2 separate regions of the Homo sapiens genome follow, and region 2 is linked to region 1. A link means that fine-mapping ties the variant in region 1 to the plasma level of a protein whose gene starts in the linked region. Region 1 holds a variant in brackets. A gene starts in the other region. All regions are shown on their reverse strands.

Region 1 (5,381 bases):
AGGGAGAATCAGAATCTCAGGCAGAGAGCCTGGGAATTCACATCACAACCTTTGATTCTAATGCCTGCAAAAGTTTGAGAACCATTGTCCCACAGCTACAGACTGGAGAGGAAAGGCCTAGGTTACTGATATGAAGGGATTTTCCCTGGGGCTTGGAAGGGAAGAGCTTCCAAGCCCTTGGTAATTCTGTATACAGCCCCGAGTCTTTCATCTAAAGATCTTAAAGAATGTTACAGGCATCAATTAACCTTTCCAGCACCCTAGACTGAAAATCCAGGCTCTTGGCCCTATTTTACTGACAAAAACTCAAACCTATGGTTTAGAGCCAAGAAAGGAATATCTTGGCTCACGTGACCTGAACTGAACAAGCTAAGGGGACTACAGGTACGCATCACCATGCCTAGCTTATTTTTTTATTATTTTTGTAGAGATGGAGTCTCACCCTCTTATGCAGGCTGGTCTCAAACTCTTGGGTTCAAGCAATCCTCCCACCTTAGCCTCCCAAAGTGCTGAGACTACAGGCATGAGTCACTGCTCCTGGCTGACAGTGGTTCTTAATCTGGGGACTTAAATTTATGTGTATATGTGTCACTCCTTGACTGTAGGCAGATGATACTTTCACTTACTCCTTGTCACTCAAGTCTCAGCTTAAAGGCAATCCCCTCAGAGAGGTCTTCCCTGAACACCCATCTTAAGTAATGTTTTCTATCATATCCTATTTTAATTTCTTCAGAGTACTTGTCATTATCTGAGATTATCTTACCTTTTCTTTGCCCCTCCTTCACTACAAGGTAAACTCCATGAAATCAGAAACCTATCTGACAGTACATTGTTGATGTTCAATAAGTGTTTGTTGAATGCTTAAATAAGCAAGTCTAAATGAAGATGTTTTCAACAATATGTAGATGCTGTTGAAATGAGTAAAATATACATTTATTTTTAAAGTCTAAATTTAGGGTGGGCACAATGGCTCATGCCTGTAATCCCATCAGTTTGAAAGGCCAACGTGGGAGGATTGCTTGAGTTCAGGAGTTTGAGACTAGCCTGGGCAATATAGCAAGACACCATCTCTACAGATAATTTTAAAAATTAACCAGGTGTGGTGGTGTGCACCTGTAGTCCCAGCTGCACTGTAGCCCCTCGGTCCCTGTAGTCCTGTAGCCCCTCAGCCTAGGCAGGCAGAGGCAAGAGGATTGCTAGAGCCTGTGAGATCAAGACTGCAGTGAGCTATGCTTGCACCACTGCACTCCAGTCTGGGCAACAGAGCAAGACCCTGTCTCAAAAATAAATTAAATAAATAAAAAGAAAAACCCTGATATGATAGTCTAAGTAGCTATCGATTGAGAGAAATACGTGCCCAGAGTATCACTTGGCTGGGTGCAGTAGCTCATGCCGTAATCCCAGCACTTTAGGAGGCCAAGGCGGGGGATTGCTTGAGCCCAGGAGCTTGAGACCAGTCTGGGCAACATAGCGAGAACCTATCTCTAAAAAAAAAATTATTGGCTGGGCACGGTGGCTCACGCCTGTAATCCCAGCACTTTGGGAGGCTGAGGCAGGTGGATCACCTGAGGTCAGGAGTTGGAGACCAGCCTGGCTAACATGGAGAAACCCCGTCTCTACTAAAACTACAAACAAATTAGATGGGCATGGTGACAGGTGCCTACAGTCCCAGCTACTCGGGAGGCTGAGGCAGGTTAGTCACTTGAACCCCCAGAGGTGGAGGCTGCAGTAAGCCGAGATCATGCCACTGCACTCTAGCCTGGGCAACAAGAGTGAAACTCCAGTACTTTTTTTTTAAGTATAGTTTAAATTTAGACTTTATTTTGAGACAGGATCTCTCTGTGTCACTCAGGCTGGAGTGCAGTGGTGCAATCACAGCTCACTATAGCTTCAAACTCCTGTGCTCAAGTGATCCTCCCACCTTAGAGCACCCCTTGCCCCATCCCCACCCCCACCCTGAGTAGCTGGGACGACAGGATGTGCCACCATGTCCAGCTAATTTTTTATGTTTTTTTTTTTTGTAGAGACAGGGTCTCACTATGTTGCCCAGGCTGGCCTTGAACTCCTGAGGCCGCAAGCGATCCTCCCCACTCAGCTACCCAAAATCCTGGGATTATAAGGCATGAGGCACTGCGTCCAGCCAGGGTTTTTCTTTATAATATTGAAAAAAGGGTTGGTACAATTTCCATTTCTGACATTGTATGGATTATAATTTCTGAACAATCTTCCCCAAAAAACAACTAAAATGATAGGTTAAATATAATTTTTAACTTTAAAATTCATAATGAGATAACACAAAAGTAAAGAGTTAGAATGACCCCAAGACAAATTAACCAAAATCAATTCTCCCTGAAACATTTTCTTAACTCCCAGTTTTGATTCCATATCACTGGCCACTCCTCAGTCTTCTCCTTTCCTGGTTGCTCCTCTATCTCTTAACCTTTTAACAGTGAAGAGTTCTAAGACTTGGTCCTTGGATCTGTTCTCTGATTGTACTTCCTTGGCAATCGTATATAGTCTGTGTTTTCAATATAATTTGTACTCTAATAAAATTATAAATTTTATCTCTGACTCAGATTTCCTTCTGTACTTCAGATTTGCATGTCCAGCTGCCCATTTGACATCTTTACTTGATTGTCTAAAATGCATCATACGGCCAGGCATAGTAGCTCACGCCTGTAATCCCAACACTTTGGGAGGCTGAGGCGAGTGGATTGCTTTGAGGTCAGGAGTTCGAGACCAGCCTGGCCAACATGGTGAAACCTGTCTCTGCTAAATAAATAAATAAAAATAAATAAATGGGCCGGGCACGGTGGCTCACGCCTGTAATCCCAGCACTTCGGGAGGCCGAGGCGGGTGGATCATGAGGTCAGGAGATCGAG[A/C]CCATCCTGGCTAACACAGTGAAACCCCATCTCTACTAAAAATACAAAAAAATTAGCTGGGCATGGTGGCGGACGCCTGTAGTCCCAGCTACTCAGGAGGCTGAGGCAGGAGAATGGCATGAACCCGGGAGGCGGAGCTTGCAGTGAGCTGAGATCATGCCACTGCACTCCAGCCTGGGACACAGAGCCAGACTCCATCTCAAAAATATAAATAAATAAATAAATAGCATCATAATGCCCAAATATGAACTCAAGTCAATGGCAATTCCATTCTTCCTGTTGCTGAGACCCAAAACACGGGAGTCATCTTTGACCTCCCTTTTTCTTATATCCCAAGCAAGTAAAGGGAGGAAAGTGGAAAAGAAAAAGTACAAAAATAGCTCGATCCATCTAAAATAAGGTAAGAAAAGGAGAAAAGAGGAACAGAAAAATAGGAAATAAAAAGCAAATAAAACAAAATCAAATATATTAGAAATTACTCTAAATGTAAATGTACTAAATTTTCTAGCTAAAAGATGGATTGTCAAATTGGATTTAAAAACAAAAAACCTGGCCAGGCATAGTGGCTGGCGCCTGTAATCCCAGCACTTCTATAGGCCAAGGCAGGAGGATTGCTTGAGCCCAGGAGTTTGTGACCAGCCTGGGCAACATAGTGAGACCCCATCTCTACAAAAAATTTTAAAAAGTAGTCAAGCATGGTGGCACACACCTGTGCTCCCAGCTACTCAGGAGGCTGAGGTGGGAGGATCACTTGAGCTGAGAAGTTTGAGGCTGCAGTGAACCATATTTGTGCTACTGCACTTCAGGCTGCATGACAGGTGAGACCCTATCTCAAAAAAAAAAAAAAAAAAAACAAATTAGCTGGGCATGGTGGTGCATGCCTGTAATACCAGCTATTTGGGAGGCTGAAGCAGGAGAATCTCTTGAACTCAGGAGGCAGAGGTTATAGTGAGCCAAGATTGCACCATTGCACTCCAGCCTGGACAACAAGAGCGAAACTTTGTCTCAAAATAATTAATTAATTAATTAATTAATTAAAAAAAACAAAAACAAAATCCTGGGCCAGTGCAGTGGTTCACACCTATAATCCCAGCACTTTGGGAGGTCAAGGCAGGAGGACTACTTGAGGCCAGGAGTTTGAGACCAGAATGGGCAACATAGTGAGACCCTGTCTCTACAAAAATTAAGAAAAAATAAATAAATAAGCAGAGTGGCCAGGCACGATGGCTCACGCCTGTAATCTCAGCACTGTGGGAGGCCAAGGCGGCTGGATTGCCTGAGCTCAGGAGTTTGAAACTACCCTGGGCAACATGGTGAAACCCCGTCTCTACTAAAATACAAAAAAATTAGATGGGCATGGTGGTATGCACCTGTAATCCCAGCTACTTAGGAGGCTGAGGCAGGAGAATTGCTTGAGCCCGGGAGGTGGAGGTTGCAGTGAGCCAAGAACGTACCACTGTACTCTAGCTTGGGCAACAGAGTGAGACTCCATCTCAAATAAATAAATAAAAAATAAATAAATAAATAAGCAGGGCACGGAGGTGTGTGCTTGTAGTCCAAGCTACTCAGGAGGCTGAGGCAGGGGGATCTCTTCAGCCCAGGAGGTTGAGGCTGCAGTGAGCCAAGATCATGCCACTACGCTCCAGCCTGGGTGACAGAGTGAGACCTTGCCTCTAAAAAATTTTTTATGTAAAATAAAATAAAAGTAAATACAAAAAAAACTAAATCTGACCACATGATGATTACGAAAAATACAGGTAAAATATAAGAACACAGAAACACTAAAATTCAAAGAATGGAAATATATAATATAGGTAAATTCTAATCACAAGAAAGCTAATTTAACTATATTTCTAGCAGACAAAATAACTATTAAGCAGAAAGAATTACTAATCACTACAAAATAAAATCATTACAAAATAATAAAAGGATCAATTAACCAGTAAGATATAACAATTCTAAACTAGAAAGCACTCAAAACACAGCATTTAAAAATACATAAAAGCAAAAATTGACAAATTCTTCAAGGAGATAGTGACGAATTTATTATCATAATAGGTTTATTAAAATACCTTCCCTAGTACTTGCTAGTTCAAACAGGCCGAAGAAAGTCATGCCATATATAGAACATCTGGAACAGCACAGTTAGTAGGCTGGCCTAATAGAAATAGAAAATTGGAGGGCCGGGCGCAGTGGCTCACGCCTGCAATCCCAGCACTTTGGGAGGCCAAGGCAGTTGGATCACCTGAGGTCAGGAGTTCAAGACCAGCTTGGCCAACATGGTGAAATCCCGTCTCTAGTAAAAATACAAAAATTAGCCGGGCGTCGTGGCAGGCACCTGTAATCCCAGCTACTCCGGAGGCTGAGGCAGAAGAATCGCTTGAACCCAGGAGGCGGAGGTTGCAATGAGCCGAGATCCCGCCACTGCACTCCAGCCTGGGCGACAGAGCGAGACTCCGTCTCAAAAAAAAAAAAAAAAAAAAAAAAGAGAAAATTGGA
Region 2 (5,381 bases), not on the chromosome of region 1:
ATGAAAAAAAAAAGAAAAAAAAGAAAAGAGATTTCTTTAGCTCACAATTCTGGTAGCTGCAAAGTCCAAGAGCATGGCGCCAGGCTGTTCAGCTTCTGGTGAGGGCCTCATGCTGCCTTATGACATGGAGGAGAAGCAGAAAGGTGAGCAGGCACGTGCTGAGTGAGGGGACCAAGGAGGCTGACCCACTTCATAACAACTTGCTCTCTCAGGAGCTAATCCATTTCCATAAGAACGAATACAATCTCCCAGGAACAAGAACTCACTCACTATCTTGAGAATGACACCAGTCTATTCATGAGGGATCCACCCCAGTGAGCCAAACACCTCACACTAGGCCCCACCTCCACACTGGCAATTAAACTTCAACATGAGTTTGGGCGGGAACAAACCACATCCAAACTGTAGCATCCTCCTAGACTAGCCCTTGGAGGTGGGCTGCCTCCACAAAAGGAATGCAATTTTTGATAAAGTGGTTTTGTTGGCTGAAGACAGTTGCTGGACAGGGACTCATTCAAGAGTTGGCCAGCAACCCTCCCAGCAGCTGGGGGAGTGAGTATCTCAGTCCTGAAAGGTAGCATACCAGAGCATCCACTACACCTGCATTTTCTGATTTTTTTTTCTATTTATTTGTTATTTTTCTAGAGATGGGGTCTCAGCTGTGTTGCCCAGACTGGTCTCAAACTCCTGGGCTCAAGTGATCTTCTCACCTTGGCCTATCAAAGTGCTAGGGTTATAGGCATGAACTACTGCACTCAGCCTGCATTTTCTGATTTCAAAATGACACTATCATCCACTATCTGATCTTTTCCACTCCTGACAGCTCTCTTTTTTCATTTGCTACCCAAGTCTTTTCCTTTCCTAGTGACCTTATAAAATATCATCCAGGCCAGGCACAGTGGCTCACGCCTGTAATCCCAGCACTTTAGGAGGCTGAGGCGGGAGAATCACTTGAGGTCAGGAGTTTGAGACCAGCCTGAACAACGTGGTAAAACCCTGTCTCCACTAAAAATACAAAAGTTAGCCACGTTTGGCAGCATGTGTCTGTAATCAAGTGGCTGAGGCACGAGAATCACTTGAATCCAAAAGGTGGAGGTTGCAGTGACCTGAGTTAGTGCCACCGCACTCCAGCCTAAGCAACAGGGTGAGACTGTGTCTCAAAAAATTTAAAAAAAAACATAATCCAGGGCCAGAGGCAGTGGCTAACACCTGTATTCCCAGCACTTTGGGAGGCTGAGGTGGGAGGATCCCTTGAGCCAAGGAGTTCAAGACTAAACATAGGGAGATCTCGTGCTCTCTCTCTCTCTCTTTCTCTCTCTCTCTCTCTCTCTATATATATATATACACACACACACACACACACACACACACACACACACATCATGCAGGTACAGTTTTGTATCATCTGTTTCAAAGGGCAACGCACTAAATAAAGCTGTACTCAACTTTTGAAAGCCCTCTTTTAAGATTAAAAAACTTCACAGGGTCCAGGCACGGTGGCTCACACCTGTAATCCCAGCACTTTGGGAGGCCAAGGTGGGTGGATGCCGAGGTGGGCAATCACGAGGTCAGGAGTTCGAGACCAGCCTGGCAAACATGGTGAAACCCCATCTCTAAAAAAAAAAATACAAAAATTAGCTGGGTGCAGTGGTGCACACCTGTAGTCCCAGCTACTTGGGAGGCTGAGGCAGGAGAATCACTTGAACCTGGGAAGCGGAGGTTGCAGTGAGCCAAGATTGAGCCATTGCACTCCAGCCTGGGTGACAGAGTGAGACTCCGTCTCAAAAAAGAAAAAACAGAAATAAAACAAAACAAAAAAACTTTACAAATCTCCACATAATAGTATCATAGTAGTAACTGAATGAATGCCCATTACAATAAATAATAAAAGCTATTATAAACTTGTTAAACTGGTTTAATCATGTGAACACCCACATATGTATGACACAAAAAAAGATAAGTATTTATATAAGGACATTTCTTGTTCTGGTGAGAGAGACAATGCTTGGTGTGCACACAAGTTCTTCAACTACCTGGATTAGGATGCTGCCTATAATTGTGTACAATAACGGAGTAGTCAGCTGAGGGGCAAGTGGAGATAGAAATCCAGCCCAATCTCTTATCACCAAGTTTTTCATCCCACCAAGGGCTGAATGTACCTGCAGAAAGGTGGCATTTTTTTAAAATCAATTGCCAAAACAAGATACCACTCAGGTCTCTCTTTTCTATTTAACATTAAGGCACCTCTATGCCAGCCCTGAACCTGCCCAGTGACTGATCACAAGCTTTGAGTCTGGAGTCAGTCCAAGATGTGGATTATGGCTTTGCCACTTACTTGCTATTAACCTTTGTTGTAGTCTGAATGTTTGTCCCCACACCCCCAAATTATAGTTATTGAAATTATAACTCCCAAGGTGATGGTATCAGGAGGTGGGGCCTTTGGGAGGTGACTGGTTCAATAGAGTGGAACCCTCATGAATGGGAGAAATGCCTTCATAAAGGAGATGGCTGGAGAAAACTAGTTAGCCCTTTCCACCAAGTGAGGTTACAGCAGTAAGACAGCTGTCAATGAGGGAGTGAACCCTCACCAGCCACTGAATCTTATGGTGCCTTGATCTTGGACTTCCCAGCCACTAAAACTGTGAGAAATAAATTTATGATGTTTATAAGCCACCCAATCTATGGCTTATAAACATAGCAGCCAAAATGGACAAAGACCACTTATCCATCAGCTTGTCTGTTTTTTTGTTTGTTTGTTTTTGAGACGGAGTCTCGCTCTGTCACCAGGCTGGAATGCAATGGCGTGATCTCAGCTCACTGCAACCTCCACCTACCGTGTTCAAGCGATTCTCCTGCCTCAGCCTCCCAAGTAGGTGGGATTACAGGCACCTGCCATCATACCTGGCTAATTTTTGTATTTTTGTAGAGATGGAGTTTAACCATGTTGGCCAGGCTGGTCTTGAACTCCCGACCTCAGGTGATCCGCCCACCTCGGCCTCCCAAAGTGCTGTGATTACAGGCATGAGCCACCGTGCCCAGCCCAACTTGTCTGTTAAATGAGATCATAACATCCCCCTCTCTGTGGTTGTGCTGTTCCTTCAGGTAGCAAATGGATACCATCTATTTTCATAGATCTTGTTTTATCAACTGTATTGTGGTATAATTTACATACAATAAAATATACAAGCATTAAGTATACAGTTTGATAAGTTATGGTAATGTAAACCGGTGACCAGATAGATAACCTGTGTGTTTTTTATACTGTCCAGAGATTGTATCAGACTCTGTGGAAATTACAAAGTAGCATAAAGCATCCTTACTTTGGTTAAACCCTTGATTGGGTTAGGCCTGGGATGTAAGTTCTCACAGCCCCCTACTTCCTCTGCATAACCACACATCACATTGTCTGTCACTCTCCTAGTCTGTAAAGCTACTTGAGGGCATCTCGAGCGTTTTCCCTGCTGTATCTGCAGGCATCTAACACAGTGCGTGGACATTCTGTAAGCATTTGTTGCAAGATAAATGAAAAAAACGTACAAAGTTAACAATGGATATCATGCTGAGTTTGTGCCAAACAAAACAGTCATTTGAAGAAGACCCGGAACAACCTTATGGGTTAGTAATTAGTAAAGACCAGTAGAGAAGGTGGCCTTTGAGAAGGGTCAGGTTTCAATAGGATTAAGGAGCATTTCAGAGCTAAACCAAGTACTTGGAAGAGATAAAAGCAGTGGGCTCAGGCACCAGCCTAGCCCACTGTGCATGAAGCTTGGTGGGGCTAAACATGATTATCAGTCCTTTAACTTTTATTGAACGCCTTCACTTCCAGATTTCTAAGTGGGGCTCAGGAATTATAATAGATGTCCACAGCTGCATGGTCTTCTCTCTCCACAACACGCAGACACTATTAGAAGTAAAAGCCACGTGTCCTCAAGAGGGCAAGGCAAAGCATCTTCAGATGTCTCTGCCCTTAAAGCACACGCGTTCTGCTCTGCGACGAAGCAGGACAAGGAGGACAGGGACCTGCACCTCCGGAGGCCCGCACCTACGAAGATAGCGGGCTCGGGACCTTCGGTGGACCGGCAGGGTTCCAGAGGCCCGCGCGCCGCCGCCCCGCCCTCATTGCTGAGCCTGCCAGGTAAGCAGCCCCAGCGCCGTGCCCGCGCGACCTCTACTCCTTCCGGGAGGGTCGCGCTCACGTCTGAAGTGGGAGCAATGCACCGGGACAGGGACACCTCCTAGGCCATGCCTGTTCCAGTCCAGTTCTGCCTGAAAGTCCGGCTGGCTCATCACCTGCCTAAATAAAACCGTATACGGGCAAACTCCCTCCGCAAGCAGCGCGCCCCAGCACCGGAAGTGACGCGTTACGTGCCCGCGTATTCCTACCGGCGTATTCCCGCCCTGCTTTTCGCCCGCCGTTCCGTGGCGGGAACTGAGGCGACTGTGGGGACATCAGTGATCGTAAGTCTCCTGGGCCCGTTATTCTCAGATTAGGTGACGGAGCTAAGACTTCGAGACCATCTCGTCCTTTTTGTATCGCGGAAACCTGAGGAACGAGCCGGCGGCGGTGACCTGCACGAGAAGCCAGGCTAACTGGTAACCTGCTGGAGGAACTGCAAGCCCGCTTCGCCTTCCCCACTCCTGCCCTTGATGCCCCTTGTGAGGTCTTCCACCTCCTTCGGGGCCCCAGCCTAGTGGCCCTTTCATGCCCTGGCCGCGCCCTTTGGTGAAATGGTGGTTCCGGACAGCATCTTGCAGGCCCCGGCTTTGGGCTGTATTAATGTTTAACAGCCCGAGGCAGGGATGGACTAATCCAGTAACGTTATAAAAACCTTGGCTGCTAACAGATATTAAAAATTTATTTTATTGAGCATATCCCCATATGCCAAGCAAGGAACTATGTATTTGCATACATTCTTTTATTTAACTCAGTTGTCCTGTGGAATAGGCCTTAGCTCCTTTAACAGAAAAGGAAACCGGGTATCATAGATGGTAATTCATTCACCAAATATTACGGAGCATCTACCATGTACCAGGCACTGTTCTAGGCACCAGGGCATGTAGCAGTGAAAAAAATAGAATTAACCGGGGACTTTTCAGGCGAGCTAATGATGCTTTTTATCCCTGAAAACAGCCTGGAAGAATGTTTACCTGCATGTTAGAAATAGTTACCTTCTGGGTGGGATTTTGTATTACTTTTTTAAATCTCTCATGCTTTTATGCATTGTTTTGATTTCTTCAAGTGAGTGTGTTATGAGAAAAACAGCTGTTTCTATTTTAACAACAGAGTCCCCCACCTTCCCTTCCCCACAGAAAGTCTCTGAAGGTAGGTAAGCATTGACTCTGCCATGAAAATAGGTCCCTGGCCAGGCGAGATGGCTCAC

Which allele goes with the higher level. Positions count from the first base shown, and alleles are read on the strand shown. Strength reflects both the effect of a copy and how common the allele is.
For the plasma level of the protein whose gene starts at base 4,401 in region 2, allele A in region 1 goes with a lower level than allele C (weak association).

The links. PIP is the chance, under the fine-mapping model, that this variant and not a neighbour inherited with it causes the effect. The UK Biobank Pharma Proteomics Project read protein levels with antibody pairs (Olink). The fine-mapping took linkage between variants from a reference panel, not from the people measured, so its PIPs are less certain.
Region 2: RFC4 starts here. The variant in region 1 is fine-mapped to the plasma level of the RFC4 protein (UK Biobank, PIP 0.97).

What each region holds. Positions count from the first base shown.
Region 1 is chr5:140,377,364-140,382,744 of GRCh38, reverse strand. All of the region lies in intron 1 of ANKHD1-DT (ANKHD1 divergent transcript), which reads left to right. LOC124901087 (a long non-coding RNA gene) reads right to left here and starts at 2,710. Exons shown (of 2, transcript XR_007058967.1): 1 at 1-2,710. RefSeq lists a silencer at 511-630. The variant A/C (reference allele first, on the strand shown) is at 2,883.
Region 2 is chr3:186,805,502-186,810,882 of GRCh38, reverse strand. It overlaps RFC4 (replication factor C subunit 4), which reads left to right and starts at 4,401. Exons shown (of 11, transcript NM_002916.5): 1 at 4,401-4,593. LINC02043 (long intergenic non-protein coding RNA 2043) reads left to right here. Exons shown (of 4, transcript NR_125409.1): 4 at 1-3. RefSeq lists enhancers at 3,622-4,233, 4,234-4,845.